Linked DNA regions of Homo sapiens: region 2 is linked to region 1. Evidence: fine-mapped expression QTL. Tissue or cell type: whole blood. Region 1 holds a variant in brackets; the other region holds the start of a gene. All regions are shown on one strand. Distances are between the middles of the regions.

What was found. PIP is the estimated chance that this variant, and not a neighbour inherited with it, causes the effect.
Region 2: it holds the start of RCL1, and the variant in region 1 is fine-mapped to the expression of RCL1 in whole blood (TOPMed, PIP above 0.99). The same link has a PIP of 0.9 or more in B cells, CD4 T cells and blood mononuclear cells.

What each region holds. Positions count from the first base shown.
Region 1 is chr9:4,856,967-4,865,074 of GRCh38, forward strand. RCL1 (RNA terminal phosphate cyclase like 1) reads left to right here. Exons shown (of 9, transcript NM_005772.5): 9 at 3,159-4,100. The coding sequence ends at 3,309. LOC124902113 (a long non-coding RNA gene) reads left to right here. Exons shown (of 2, transcript XR_007061402.1): 2 at 1-109. Among named protein-coding and RNA genes, the nearest start is that of MIR101-2, 11 kb to the left of the region's middle. The variant G/A (reference allele first, on the strand shown) is at 4,014.
Region 2 is chr9:4,789,845-4,797,952 of GRCh38, forward strand. RCL1 (RNA terminal phosphate cyclase like 1) reads left to right here and starts at 3,100. Exons shown (of 9, transcript NM_005772.5): 1 at 3,100-3,383. The coding sequence starts at 3,248. RefSeq lists enhancers at 2,357-2,406, 3,227-3,276, 3,351-3,850 and a silencer at 2,787-3,146.

The DNA of each region.
Region 1 (8,108 bases):
GAGGGAAATTCATCAAGGCAGGCTTTATATGTAGTTTGGTATACACCGAGTAGGGGTGAGAACCAGGATCAGTTGTTTTATAGCATGGCAAATATGTATTGATTTCTTTATTTTAAAAAGCTTTATTGAGAACCAATTCACATATGACACAATTTACCCATTTTAAGTACACAGTTTAAAGGTTTTTTAGTGTATTCACAGACTTGTGTAACCACAGCCACAATCTAATTTTAGCACATTTTTACTACCCCCAGAAAGAAACCCTGTGCCAGCTCACAGTGCCTCCCATTCTTCCCACTCTCCCCAGCCCCAGGCAACCACGAATCTCCTTTCTGCCTCTGTGATAGATTTGCCTGTTGTGGCTTTTTCATATTGTGTAGATAGAATCATACACTATCTGGTCCTTTGTGACTGGATTCTTTCACTTAGCATAATGTTTTCAGGGTTCATTGATGTAGCACGTATCAGTGCTTTGTTCCTTTTTTATGGCAGAAAAAAAAAAATCTTCCATTGAATGGATATACCACATTTTATGCATTCATCAGTTGGTAGACATTTGGGTTGCTTCTACGTTTTGACTCTTGTGAATAATGCCATTATGAATATTTGCGTGCAAGTTTTTGTGTGGGTGTATGTTTTCATTTCTCTTGTACATATTCCTAAGAGTAGAATTACCGTATCCTATGGTAACTCCCCGGTTAACATTTTGAGGAACTGCCAGGTTGTTTTCCACAGCGGCTGTACCGTTTTACATTCCCACCAGCAGTGTATGAGGGTTCTAGTGGTTCTGCCTCCTCACCCACACTTTTGTTATTGTATGTCTTTTTATTATAGCCATCCTATTGGATATGAAGTGATATTTCACAGTGGTTTTGATTTTCACTTCCCTAATAACCAGTGATGTTGAGCATCTTTTCATGTCCTTATTGGATATTTGTGAGGAAATATCCGTTTAGCTCTCCCACTTTTTTTTTTTTTTTTTTTCAGTGAGTCTTACTCTGTTGCCCAGGTGGGAGTGCAGTGGTGCAATCATAGCTCGAGTAGCTAGGACTACAGGCTCCTGCCATCATGCCTGGCTAATTTTAAAACAATTTTTTTGTAGAGATGGGGGTCGTAATAGACTGGTCTTGAATTCCAGGCCCCAAGCAATTTGCCTGCCTTGGCCTCCCAAACTGTTGGGATTACAGGTGTGAGGTACCATGCCTGTACTCTCCCATCGTTTAATTAGGTTATTTGTCTTTTTATTATTGAGTTGTAAGAGTTGTTTATATAGTTGAGATGCCTGACCTTTATCAGATATATGACTTGCAGATCTTTTCTCCAATCCTGTAGGTTGTTTTTTTACTTTCTTGATGGTGCACTTTGATGCACAAAGTATTTTAATTTTGATGAAGTCCAATTTATTTATTTTGTCTCTTATTGCCATCCTTTTGGTGTTGTATTTAAGAAATGGTTAAGAAACCGTTGCCTAGCCCAAGGTAATGAATATTTACTCCTGTATTTTCTTTAGTGAACTTTATAGTTTTAGCTCTTACAGCTATGACTTTGATCTCTTTTGGGTTAAGTTTTGTGTGTGATGTGAGGAAGGGGCCCAGCTTCATTCTTTCACCTGTGGATATCCAGTTGTTCCAGCATCATTTGTTGCAATGATTATGCTTTCCTCATTGAGGAAATTAGCCATAACTGTGTGGTTTATTTCTTGACTCTCAATTCTCTTCCATTGATCTATGTGTTTAGCGTCAGTGTTTTTAAAGCTCCTTAGGTTATTCCATGTGCAGTCGAGATTGAGAACCATCTGGCCAGAGTGGAGAGTTTGGCTGGTTTGATTGGGAGACAGTACAGTGCGAGGTTTTTGTAATACTTCACTATAGATGTGCAAGCCATCATTCTTCACTAAGCCAGTATTCCCTAACCTTGCCCAATGAGACTTGCCAGGGATTCTTGTTAACAACATAGATTTCTGGCCTCTATGAACTGGGGAGTACAGGGCCTGGTGGAGGGTAGGGAGGGATCAGCTTTGTGTGTGGACTGTGATTCTGGGCTCTTCCATATGGACATTTCCTACCAGTTGCAAGTTCACCATAACCTTCAGGAACCTGTGTATTTAATGAACTGTTCAGGTGAGTCTTATGGTCAGGCTAGCTGGGGTGACGCTAGGTCTGCCAGGCGAGACCATTAGAAGCCTGTGCACCTGCACTGCGGTTCATCCACAGAATTGCTCTTCCCAAGGTACTCTTGGACTGATGCCATCGCCCTGTGATGCCATTGTCCTTGTTGTGTTTACTGTGCACACTTCCCCGGCCACCTTATTTAATATTGCCTTCTGCCAAATATGTACAAATACTGTCATACCCACAGTTCTTCCCCGTCTGTGTTGTTTGCTTTGTTTACATTACATAGCACTTTTCAGGAATAAAATTAATTTATTTATCTAGTCTCTATCTATACCACTAGATTGAAATCCTCCTGAGGGAAGGATTTTTATTTTTATTTTTTTTCATTTGAGTGCAATATTCCCAGCACCAAGAACAGTGCCTAGCATACAGTAGGCACTTGATACATATTAAGTAAATGCGAGGGTATTATTGGAGAATGAAGGGAGGGACTTGTCTGTTTCAGCATCAGTAGTCATTGTGCTTGTTTTGAATGTCATGGTGCTGTGAATCATGGAAATAGGTGTTTCTGTCTTTGTATAGGCCACTCAAAAATCATTGCCTAAGCCAGGTACATTGGGACACCCATAGTCCCAGGTAGTCAGGAGGCTGAGGTGGAGGATTGCTTGAGCCCAGGAGCTTGAGGCCAGTTTGGGCAACATAGTGAGACCCCATCTCTTATAAAAAAAAGAGTCATCACCATATTTCTGTCCATTTTCTGCTAGGTCTGAACTAAATAACTTATGTGTCACGTACGAACTTCTAACCTTTCCCCCCCCAGTTTAATTTATCTTGCTGTATTGCGTGTATCTCTGCAAACTATCTAAATCTTCTTTGGAAACTGGCTGGCTGAAAGGAAGTACTATTTAATCAGATTCGATGAGAAGGTCTTAACTTCAGCCCTCTAGGTCTGGGAGATTAAAACCTTGGATTCTAGGTGGTAGAGGATAATTTTTTTTTGAATGAATTTCTTTTTATTTATTTATTTATTTTTTTCCTTTTTAGGATAGAATTTTTGCGGCATTTGAAGAGCTTTTTCCAGATTATGTTTAAAATTGAAACCAAGCCATGTGGTGAAGAACTCAAGGGTGGGGATAAAGTGCTGATGACCTGTGTTGGCATTGGTTTCTCCAACCTTAGCAAGACCCTCAAGTGATAACCATCACAAGATAAGGCCCCAATGCCTACAGACAAAGCAGAAGCTGCCACGGACACCAATGGGACCAAGTCCAAATGGATTAATCCAGGACAGAATAGCCACTTGCTTAATTTTCTGTGAAGAAATATCAATATACAAATAAAAGACATCCCTGTAGCATATGGTTTCCAGCTGTTTCTCCAGTGGCATTGCCATTGCCCAGGAGGGGCCCAGTCACCATGAGAGCTCCCTTGCCTTACCTGGAGGAAGAATGTGCCTTCAGGCCACAGTCGTGCTGCTAGAACAGTCTCGTAGCTGCAGTTCAGCTGTGCTTCCTCAGCCTACTATCATAGGCTTCCTCAGCCCTCTGTCATATGGCTGTTTTGCAAACCTGTGGAGTCTGTTACTGTTCTTTCTGCAAGGACTCACCTCCTTGAGCCTTGGTTTTTGTTGTAGGGATTAAATGAGATAATATGAGTGGCAGCTCTTCATGAGTCCTGCAGTGCTAAGCAAATGTCAGAAATTGGTGTATTAGACTATTTATCTTTGATCTTCTGAATGGATTGCTGTCATGGACACGGACACGGATCTTCATCTGGTTCATTGTATTTATATGTGAGGGATGGATGGCTGCGGGGCTCCAAGTAAGTTATTGGGATGTTTTTATATTCCAGGTGTGCTGTACATTCTTATTTTATTTTCACAATAGCTCTGTGATGTAA[G/A]TGCTATCTCCATGAGAAAATTCATAAAGGGTGTTTTGTTCCTTTGAAATGTATAATGTAAAGACATTAAATCTCCTCATTTAAGGATCTAAGTGTAATAAGTGTAATAGAGTCAGGGTCTGGGATTTTACCCTTGCAAGCTAATAAGTTAGATTATTACTTTTTTATTGATGCTACCAGAAGACATGAGGATCCTGGGTCAGAGATAAAGAACTTTACTCAGCATAGCAAGCAGCATGAACTTCGTGTTTATATTGGTTTCCCCTGTCTCACAGTGGACATGGAGGGGCCCAGGTAGATGCTATGCATGTTACAAGTTTGCATCATAGCCAAAGAACTTGTTATGTTTGGGGACTCCACCTATTTCATGGCAAGCCTGTTGTTTCACGTGCAGAGATTACTTCATCCCTTAAGACTGCCTCCTGCAAACACAGTTTTGAGAAAGAACCCAGGCAAGAGCCTGCCCAGCAAGAATATGCAGGAATACCAGGATCCATGGCAGATTTCCCCTGCCAGCTAATAGAGTCTGCATTTGATATGTGCATAGGCTTGAAGTTTGTAGAAGGGGAAAGATGTACTTCTTTCTACTTGAATTCCAAATGGTGTCCTCCCCCGGGGGTGAACTTTGCCTCATCACTCCCTCTCGGTACCTTTTGCTTTTTAAGTGAAAAGGGGCTAGAGAAAGGCTGTGCTTTGATGTCTAGGGGTGTGGGAGGATGTGGAGGTAGAGAGTTAACCTTGAGGAAGGCCAGGACATTCTGGACTATGACATTCTACTGAGAGCTTTACATACTGTATTGGTAATATGCTCTTGGTATATAACAAATGCTCACAAACTTAGTAGCTTAAAACAATACCTCTTTATCATTTCACAGTTCTGAAGGTCAGATATCCAGGCAGGGCTTGGTTGGATTCTCTGCTTAGAGTCTCATAAGGCTGATATCAGGGTGTGTGTCACCTGGGCTGGGCTCAGCTCTCATCTGAAGGCTCTGGGAAAGAATGTGCTTCCAGCTCATTCAGGTTGTCGACAGAATTCAGGGTTGTAGGACTGAAGTCACCTGTTTTCTTCCCATTTTTCTTGCTGGCTGTGAGCTGTGGACAACTCTTAGCATATAGACAGGCACTGTCCGTATTTCTGTTCACTTGGTCTCCCCTACCTTCAAGCTGGCAATGGTGCATGGAATCCTGGTACTTTGGATTCACCTTCCGTTTGATACCAGCTGGAGAAAACATTGCTTAAAAATGACTCATAGCACAATAGTCCTACCTGGATTATCTCCCTATCTTAAGGTCAACTGACAACAGCAATACTAGATTTGTGTTTAAATAACCAGGGGCTGGGAATCGTGGATTACCATCTAAGAATTTTGCCTGCCACACATACTGCAGTCTTACCTAGTGCCGCTGACGTTCGAACTCAGATCTGCCCATATAGAGCTCAAATCCAGAACTAAGGGGCACATTGCTTTTGGAATATCACATACCTGCCGTTCCTTGTACAAGCTCTGGAAATGGTGCTGTTGGTCAATGTAGGGTGGCACATAGAGGCCAGGCAGATTACTATAAGCAGTAGAGGGGATATGTGCTACTGTCTGCTGCAAACCTGGAAGTGTCTGGTGTGGTTCCAGCCCTGCATTTGGCAAAGCTGCTTCTGGAGTTGGAACATCTTGCAGGAATGGTGATGGTATTGCCAAAAAGAGGACAAATTTAATATTTATTTAAACAGCTCACTCCCAGCCCCTTCTCAAATTCCCAAGAGAAGCAATGTACCATTCCTTCGGGAAGAAGTCATCCTTTGCTGTTTGCTGGGACATCTTAGAGACTATTCAAATCCTGCATTCTCTTCCTTTTTTCTAGCTTAGCTCCTGGTCGGTCCACTTACTTGCTGGGGTAGCTTGAAGCGAGAGATTCCAGCGTTTTGGGGCTTGGTTTTCTATCTTGGTCTGTCTGTTCCTTTCTGCTGATAGAGATAGACCATTCTGAGTTAACGGCAGCAGTTGTTCAATGGGAGTGTGAGTTTTTTAGGCAGATAAACCTGTGAACTTGCTGGGGGTCATGGCAGTATCATTCTTTGCCTTCTTGTCATCTACAAGGCCCTGCTTCTGTCTTTCAACATCCTTTAACTACATTCCATGCAGACTCCAGCCAGCCTCCATCATGATGATTTTACCATAGTGGTCAAAACAGTTGCTAACGGGTGGGAGGCAGCCAGTGTGTTGCAACATGACATGTTGATTGGGAAGGAGCAACAGGAGGACCTGCTGAATTACACATTGCCCTCACTGGGCAGCTAAGCCTCAGGGGTTTTGTTCTTTTAAAAAAAAATTAAATTCTTTTTTGAGTCAGGGTCTCACCCAGGCTAGAGTGCAGTGGTGCAGTCCTAGCTCACTGTAACCTCAAACTCCTGTGCTCAAGTGATCCTCTTGCCTCAGCTTCCCAAGTAGCTGGGACTATAGGCATGAGCCACTGTACCCAGCTAATTAAAAAAAAATTTTTTAGAGATGTTGTCCAGGCTGGAGTTTTTGTGTTTTTGTTTTTGTTTTTCCAATTTAATTTTAAGTTCTGGGATACCTGTGCAGGACGTGCAGGTTTGTTACATAGATAAACATGTGCCATGGTGGTTTCCTGCACCCATCCACCCATCACCTAGGTATTAAGCCCAGGGTGCATTAGCTATTTATCCTGATGCTTTCCCTTCTGGGTTTTCTTTATTTTAAAAAATCATTTCCAAAAAAGTGGTAAAGGATAGCTAATCACAGACCCAAATTATAAAAACAAAAATTCAAGTTGTACCATGGTGCCTGTCCTCACACCAAACGGCAGAAGACCATGAGGTGGCCATTTCCTGTTAGGTCTTTGTGTTGGGAGGCTGCTAGGTGAGACCAATCCTGGCACTTAGTTTTATGGGCCCTGAGTAGAAGAGTTGAAGGTGCTAGAGGGAGGCAAAGGAAGTAGGCAGGATGTTGTACAGAAGGCTGGAAGCAGTTGATGAAATCAAAGGTAGTTGGGGACACTGGAGCATCAGTGAAACAATTTCCAAAGTTTTGGCCGTGCCTGAGGTGAGGGTGGAGTTCGGCTGGGGGAGGCGGAATCAGAGTGAGCTAAATAAGTGGATTTACTGTGCCTTCGTTCCAGGGTCTTTGGAGTAGAATGTGGGGTTCTGTTGGCCTTCCCAGTTGGTAGTGTCAGACCTGGGGTGTACAGGTGGCAATTTTAGTCTGTGATGAGTGGGAATGCAGCACTGCAGGGCCTGTGCCCACCCAGGATCTCCATTGTCCCTTACTCCAGAGTGGACGAGAAGTAGTTGGCACTTGGGTTTCCATGTTCAGATGGTGCTGGCCTGTTCTTTAGAAGTGACTGAAAGTTTAATGGGATTGTCAACAGGCAAGCTGGGCCTTTTTGTACTTTTCTTGGCCACATCTAAGAGGCCATTTGAGTGGAACGCTTTATCAGTGTTTGGCATCTAACAAAGGCCGAGCCACGTCACTCCTTTACTCCAGCAAATGAAAGCTGTCCGGTTGTCAGGGTTTGCCCGGGTGTGGGGCTGCCCTCCTTCCTGGTCGCATTTGGCCCGTACCTGTCAGGTACCCTGAGCACGGGCCTGGGATCGGCACCTGTTTTAAAACATCCTAGATATTTCAGGTATTCAAGTGTCTCTGAGGGCTCGGGACATTCTTTATTCCTGTTTCCTCCTCATTCCCACCCCTCTGAAGAGCCTTGTGTCCAAAAATCCTCAGATTGCTTAATTTGTTAATTTATTTCTGCCACAATTTGGGACATTACATATTTCAACTGATATAGAAATCAGAGGCCAACTTAAAGACAAAAGATAATGAACGAGCCTGGCTAAAAGATATGTGCCTCCGTGTGTCTGTTCCCTGAATACCCTGTTACTATGGCTGCGATAGAGCACTTGGGCTGCTGCCGGACTCCCTGGGGGCCATCTAGGCAACTGGTCTCCGTCTTGGGAGAAAATGATGCCCCAAAGGTAAGGTCGGCTGCTGCTTCCTGCTACATCTGGGATGGTGAACCATCCTGAAGTTCTTTGTAATCTTCAAGGAAGTCTGTTAGTGTTTGAAATGGTACCTGGCTTCA
Region 2 (8,108 bases), 67 kb before region 1:
AAAGAAAAATTAAAAAAAAATACTATAGTAACCAAAATGGCATGGTACTCGCATAAAAACAGACAAATGGACCAGTGGAACAGAATAGAGAACCCAAAAACAAATCTATAACCCTACAGTGAACTCATTTTCAATAAAGGTGCCAATAACATACACTGGGGAAAAAACAATCTCTTCAATAAATGGTGCTGGGAGACCTGGATATCCATATGCAGAAGAGTAAAACTAGACTGCTTTCTCTTGCCGTGTACAAAAACCAAATCAAAATGGATTAAAGACTTATATCTAAGACCTCAAACTATGAAATGGCTACAGAAAATATTGGGGAAAATCTCTAGGACATTGGTTAGGCAAAAATTTCTTGATTAATAACCCACAAGCATACGCAACCAAAGCAAAAATGGGATCATATCAAGTTAAAAAGCTTCTGCACAGCAAAGGAAACAATCAACAAACTGAAGAGACAACCCAAAGAGTGAGAAAACATATCTGCAAACTACTCATTTTGAGATATCATCTCATCCCAGTTAAGATGGCTTATATTCAAAAGACAGGCGATAACAAATACTGGTGAGGATGTGGAGAAAATGGAACCCTTGTACACTGTTGGTGGGAATGTAAATTCGTGCAACCACTATGGAGAACAGTTTGGAGGTGCCTCAAAAAACTAAAAATAGAGCTACCATATGATTCAGCAATCCCACTGCTGCGTGTATACCCAAAAGAAAGGAAATCAGCATATCAAAGAAATATCTGCACTCCCATGTTTGTTGCAGCACTCTTCACAATAGCTAAAATTTGAAAACAGTCAAAGTGTCCATCAACAGATGAATGGATAAAGAAAATGTGATACATATACACAATATAGTATTATTCAGCCATAAAAAAGAATGAAATCCTGTCATTTGCAACAACATGGATGAAACTGGAGATCATTATGTTAAGTGAAATAAGCCAGGCACAGAAAGAAAAACATCACATGTTCTCACCTATTTGTGGGATCAAACAATCAAAACAATTTAACTCATGGAAATAGAGAGTAGAAGGATGGTTACTAGAGACTGGAAAACATAGAGGGGGTGGGGATGTTGGGGGGCAGGTGGGGATAATAAATGTGTACAAAAATTAGAAAGAATAAGATCTACTATTTGATAGCACAACAAGGTGTCTGTAGTCAACAATAATTTAATTTTCATTTAAAAATAACTAAAACAGTATAATTGTTTTGTTTGTATAATAACACAAAGAATAAAATGCATGAGGGGATGAGTACCCTATCCTTCAGGATGTGATTATCACACATTGCATGCCTGTATCAAAACTTCTCCCGTACCTCATATATACATGTACCATCTACCTACAAAAATTAAAAATTAAAAAAATTATATGGAACCACAAAAGACCCAGAATAGCCAAACCTGTCCTAAGCAAAAAGAACAAAACTGGAGGAATCACATTACCTGACTTCAAATTATACTACAGAGCTAGAGTAAACAAAATGGCATGGTACTGGCATAAAAACAGACACATAGATCAGTAGAACAGAGCGGAGAACGCAGAGATAAATCCACACAGCTACGGTAAACTCATTTTCGACAAAGTTGCCAAGAACATACTCTGGGGAAAGGACAGTCTCTTCAATAAATGATGCTGAGAAAATTGGATATCCATATGCAAAAGAGTGAAACTAGATCTCTATCTCTTGCCATTTACAAAAATCAAAGAAAAATGGATTAAAGGCTGGGAGTGGTGGCTCACACTTGTGAGGCCAAGGTGGGCCAATCGCTTGAGGTTAGAAGTTTGAGACCAGCCTGGGTAACATGGCAAAAACCCATGTCTATACAAAATACAAAAATTAGCTGAGCATGGTGGTGCACACCTGTAGTTCCAGCTAATGGGGAGGCTGAGGTTGGAGGATTACTAGAACTCGGGAAGTTGAGGCTGCAGTGAGTCATGAGCATGCCACTCCACTCCACTTTATAACACACTGTTGTCTACATAAGGCTAGCTACATCCCTTAATCTTAAACTCCCACCGCTTTCAGACACTATCATACCCCGCCCCCCTTCCCCCCGCGAACCCCCGTGCATTCTGGGACTCATGGTTTGGTGAGTGTTGTCCAGGAATGGCTACAAACCCACATTACTATGATATCGGACTTCTACTTGTGTAGTCATTTGTTAGTTAACTGTACATTTTGGAAGGTTTTTGAGTAGAGAAGTGAAATAATCCAACGTTTGGGAAGATTTTCTTGTGCAGGATTGGAGGAGGACGGGAAAGAGGGAAAAAGCATTGCGCGCGTGTGTGTGTGTGAAGTTATTACAACTATCTATCTTGAAGCATGCGAGGTAGGAGGGCCTGAATTGCCATGAAACGCAATGACGATAAACGAAGGGACCCGTGAGAAAGGGGCAAAGAGGTGTCTCAATAAAATAAGCAACGGCCTGCTGTGGGAGGATTCGGGTCTCAGTATAGGCTGCCACTGTCAGCTTTGCAATATTCCTCGAGCCTTTATCCATGAGTAGGACAGGATGGCTCTACCTTGCAGGGTTACAGCATGGAGCTGCGGGACTGCGCCGGCAGTGCGCTGAGCGGCATCCCTGCGATAGGGTGAGTGCACCAACCCTTGTTGTCTCTCTTAGTAAGAAAGAGGAGGGGTAGATAATAGCATCTTCACCCCAGTAGTTGCCGTAAGTAGTAATGCTAAGAATCCGGCACGTCGTAGGCATCAATCTCAGTCCGCCATCTCCCCTTGCTACCACGCCAGGAGGTACACAGAGGAGACTGCCCCGACTGGCAACTCCCGCGCCGGGGTTCCCTGGCCATCCTCCCGCGTTCCCTCCAGCCGCGCGCTGTTGCCAGGGCCCGGGCACCGCCCAGCTCCACTACGGACCAATGGCAGCGCGGCTTGGGCACCGCCCAGCTTCAGCGGAAGCCAATGGAGGCGCGGCGCGGGCACCGCCCTGATCCGGCGCGGGCCAATAGCGGCGTGGCCCGAAGCGGGGGCCGCCCCGGTCGGGCGGGGAGGCGGGGAGGTGGCCACTGGCTCCGCCCCGCTCCCCTCTGACCCGGTGTCTAGTCTCTCCGTCTTCCTGTTCCAAACCACGTGGACGCGTCTGGGCTGCTGGAGGCAGCCCGAGCCGCCGCCGTCGGTGTCGCCGCCACCACCACCATCGGAGTCACGAGTCCCGCGTCTGTCCGAAGTCGCCGCTCTCGGGCTGCTCACGTCTCTTCGGAGAGCGCGCACATGGCGACTCAGGCGCACTCCCTCAGCTACGCAGGGTGCAACTTCTTGCGCCAACGTCTGGTCCTGTCTACCCTGAGCGGGCGCCCCGTCAAAATCCGAAAGATTCGGGCCAGAGACGACAACCCGGGCCTCCGAGGTAACTTGGTGTGGGCGGCGCGCGGCGTGGGCGCGGGGGCTGAGGGGAGACCGAGCTGATGCCGTGGGGGCCCGCGCGGTGTTGGTTGGGCGGCTCGGCGTCCGGCGAGCGCGTCGGGGAGGGCAGGTGGCGCGTCGCCTCCAAAGCCGGAGGGGCAGGCACAGTGGGGGAGGCGGGGTCGGGGCCCGAGGGGAGCGCTCAGCTGCAAGCTGCGCTCGGCGTCTCCGGGGCGCTGGTAGTAAACAGCTGCACGTTTTCCAGCTTTACGTGTAGCAACAAATCCCTGGCGTCGCCCCTTCGCGTCCCTTCGGCCCCTCTTGCCCTCGCCATAAACCTCTCAAAGGAGAAAAACAGTTTGTTGGACCGAAATATGGTGAATGAGCCGGGGGAGAGACATTGGGAGAGAAAAGTACCTTGGGTTGGTTCTCTGCCCTGTCTCAAAGCAGTTCTCAGAAGCAGCTGCCCCCTTGGACACCGGCTGTTCCTGTCGCCATGATTTCTCGGCTGCCCTCACACTTGTCCTTGGGTGTGGATAAAGAAATTTTTAAAATTCTGTGTTTGTTTTCAGCCGTGACTGTGATTGATGTGCGCAGGACAGGAGCTTTGAGATAGACTTTTAACAGTCATGGGCCTAATTGCCTTGACTTTAGAAAAGGGGTCGGTGACAATCGCTAAACTGCAGGCTTCCAAGCTCACTTCTTGCTCTGCAATGGTAGGTTAAAAAGAAATAGGCCCATTTAAACCCACATCTCATTAAATGGCGCCGGTTTTCAACTGGCCTTGGTTTACACCTGGCCCCCTGGCATGAGATACATGCATTTAAAAGCTTCTGACTGGTGGTTATCCCAAGTTGGGCGAGTCAGTAGTCAGGTGAAAAAGGAAAAAACCTGTCTGTAAATTGAAAAAGAGTGTTTGTGGTTGGTCCTGGAAGCTTCCTGAGCGGCGCTGATGTGTTTCATTTTGCACTGGCTCTTGTTTTATCTGTCTGAATGCATTTTTTGGATAGTTAGATCTCTGCCTCTCTTGGGTGGTGATTGGCTGCACATAAAGGGCAGAAGATGCCATGCTATTGACGGAGATAGGTTAGGAAGGAAAGAAGCAGAATATCCCAGGTACAGTGGTGAGAAACCTAGTGATGGTAGGAAAAACTTGTGTTGGTGGTTCCTGTCCTCTCTCTACTGCTCAAAAACACTGAGAAAGTTAGGGAGAGACCACAAATGGTTTATGCCACGACTTTTCCGTCAACAAGTGTTCCACTTAGTTTGACCCTTGGGCAAAGTGTTTGCTTGATTGCTGTGTGGCATTCTCAGCCAGCTCTCCATCCACTTTACCCTCAGGTTAGCTCAGAGAACTTGCCACTAGCTGGATATGGTAAGAAGATGGACTTCTACTTTGTATAAAAGTAGGCATAACTTTTTTTTTTTTTTCCAGAGAAATGGAAGTATAGCCTGGAAACCTGGGTTCTCTAAAATGAATCTAGTTCTATTTAGAGTTTTTCTATTGACAGGTGGCCTCCAATTTAATATTTAATGTTCCAAAGTATGCTTCTCCTTCTCCCCCTCCACTGTATGTGAGCATCTCTTCAAAGCATCTCACACATATGAGCTCCCGTTTCTTCCAAGAACAGGGCTTGGCCACTTGGCACTTTCTTGAAAGGGTGTCAGACGCTGATACCTGAGGGAGGTAGAACTGCTTGGCAGGTGTGCTGGTATTTTATGGGGAACATTACTGTAGAGCATTATTTGCCTTACCCCGTTCATATACCAGGGGAAGAAAGAGACTCCTAGTTATTTGTACATCCTTGCGCTGGCTTCAGGGCCTCAGAAACCTTGTAGATGTTTGTCTGCTTAATTTCTTTCTTTTTTTTTGAGACAGAGTCTTACTCTGTCTCCCAGGCTGGAGTGCCGTGGTGCGATCTCGGCTCACTGCAACCTCCGCCTCCTGGGTTCCTGCAATTCTCCTGCCTCAGCCTCCCTCGTAGCTGGGATTACAGGTGCCTGCCACCATGCCCAGCTAATTTTTAGTAGAGTATTTTTAGTAGAGATGGGGTTTCACCATGTTGGCCAGGCTGTATGAAACTGCTGACCTCAGGTGATCCGCCTGCCTTGGCCTCCCAGAGTGCTGGGATTACAGGTGTGAGCCGCTGCGCCCAGCCTGTCTGCTTAATTTCTTACAGAGGGAACAGAGAGATAGATATGCATTTGCAGATATACATGTATATGTGTATATGTATACACATACATGTAAGTGTATATACATATACGTGCACGCATAAATAGATGTAGTCCCTGACACATGATTTCTGGTCATAATCAAGGGAGTCCTTGGTAGCTTGATTGAAGATGTAGCCGGAAGCCTATGTTGCCCGTCATCTGTCCCTTTCTGACTTTTCCTAACTCAGATTCTCAGAGTTGGAAAAAACTCAGAGCATATCCAATAAAATCTTCAGTTCTAATGCAAGAATCACATCTCTTCAAGGTGCTTGCTTAAAACATCCCTCATGGTGTGGGCTTTGGAGGGTAGGGATAGTATGGGAGGCTTTCGGCCTCAGGAACATTTATTTAGAAAGTGTTTATTGAGCCACAGTATGTGCAAGGCTTTGTATGGGGGTGAGTGTAATATATGTGAGAAGCTGGTTGCCCCTGTTCTCATGGAGCTTGTCATGTAAGTAGGATGTTACTAAGTTTGAGTAACTTGAAGTAGGAAGGATTGAGTATTGTACAGGGGCTCAGTGGAGTTCAGAGCAGACACTTCCCTGAAAGTTACGAAGGAAGGCAGGTTTTCTGGACCTGATCTGGACAGATAGGATTGAGATGGTGGCTGCGGAAATCATTGTTTGCAAAATAAACAGTTCTTTTTTTAAAGAAATTTTATTTTAGAGTCGGGGGTACATGTGCATGTTTGTTACATGGATATATTGCCTACTGGTGGGGACTGGGCTTCTGGTGTACCCATTATCCAAATAGTGAACATCGTACCCAATAGGTAATTTTTCAATCTCCCTCAATCTTCCTCCTTTTCCAGTCCCCAATGTTTGTTATTTCCATGTTTAAGTCCATGTGTATCCATTGTTCAGCTCCCACTTATAAGTAAGAACATGGAGTATTTGATTTTCTGTTTCTGAATTAGTTCTCTTAGGATAATGGCCTCTAGCTCCATGTTGTTGCAAAGGACATTATTTCATTCTTTTTTTTGAGACAGAGTCTCACTCTGTCATGAGTGCAGTGGTGTGATCATGGCTCACTGTAGCCTCAACCTCTTGGGCTCAGGTGATCCTCTCACGTTAGCTTCCTGAGTAGCTGGAACTACAGATGTGTACCACAGCATCTAGTTGATTTTTAAAATTTTTTTTGTAGAGATGGGGTGTTGTCTATGTTGCCGAGGCTGGTCTTGAACTCCTGGACTCAAGCAGTCGTCCTGCCTCAGCCTTCCAAATTGCTGGGATTACAGGCATGAATAACCATGCCCAGCCTGATTTCATTCTTTTTTATGGCTGTGTAGTATTCCATAGTGTATATATACCACATTTTCTTTATCTAGTCAACCATTGGTGGACACTTAGGTTAGTTCCATCACTTTGGTATTGTGAATAGTGCTGCAATAAACATACAAGTACAGGTGCCTTTTTTGTATAATGATGTCTTTTCCTCTGGGTAGATACCCAGTAGTGGAATTGCTGGGCCATATGGTAGTTCTATTTTTAGTTCTTTGAGAAATCTCCATATGAAAGAAACAGTTTTTAAGTCAAAAAGTTCTTTATTTTCTTTATTTTACTGAGGTAAAATCCTTAATTTGTCATGGTCATAATACTTGGCAATTAAGAGCTTGGGGTCAGTATTGGACCTTGGTTTGAGTACGAGTTCTGCCTTTCGCTATTAGCTCTTGGTCCTTGGGCAAATTATTTTAACTATTCTCTTCTGAGCCTCAACTTTTTCACCTGTAAAGTGGGGCCAGTACTACTGACTTCACAGGGTTATTGTGAGGACTAAATGAAATAATACTTCAAAGTGTACTGAACAGTGCCTGGCACATAGGAAGAATAAATGTTAGCTGATTTTATTATTATGTAGCTTGAACCCACTGGGTATAGGTCTGCTCCCTGGCATGCCAAATCCGTTCCTGCTTCTATATGGAAATTTTTCAGATATTTGAAGAGAATTATGCCTTCTGTAAAGTTCTTCTCCTAGGTGGTTGTTTCCACGTATTTCTATGTTATATGTAAAGCACAGTAGTTTTCAACCAGGGGCACTTTTGTTCAGTGGGGGACATTTGGGAGCATTTGGAGACATTTTTGGTTGTCACAGCTTGGCAGAGGGGAATGCTACTGGCCTCTAGTGGTTAGAATCCAAGGGTGCTGCTAAATATCCTACAGGACAGCCTCCCACAACAAAGAATTATCCATTCAAAATGTCAGTAGTGCTGATGTAGAAAAACCCTGGCCTACTTGACAGTAGTAATTAAACCTTTTCTTTTCCCTGTATCCCTAATGATTAGGAATAGCAGCATGTGACACCAAGAAGACTACACAAGGATTTAGAAACAAATGAGACACAGATCAAACTCTGTGACTTCAGGCAAATCATTGAATCTCTTAAAACTGTCCCCTTCCATTGCAAAGGGGTTGTAAATACTGAAAGGAATCTGAACCCCAAAGAAGGATGGTCCCGGGCTGGTGATTATAATTGTCCAGCCACATGTATAATTTATGCTTCCGTTTTGAGGAAC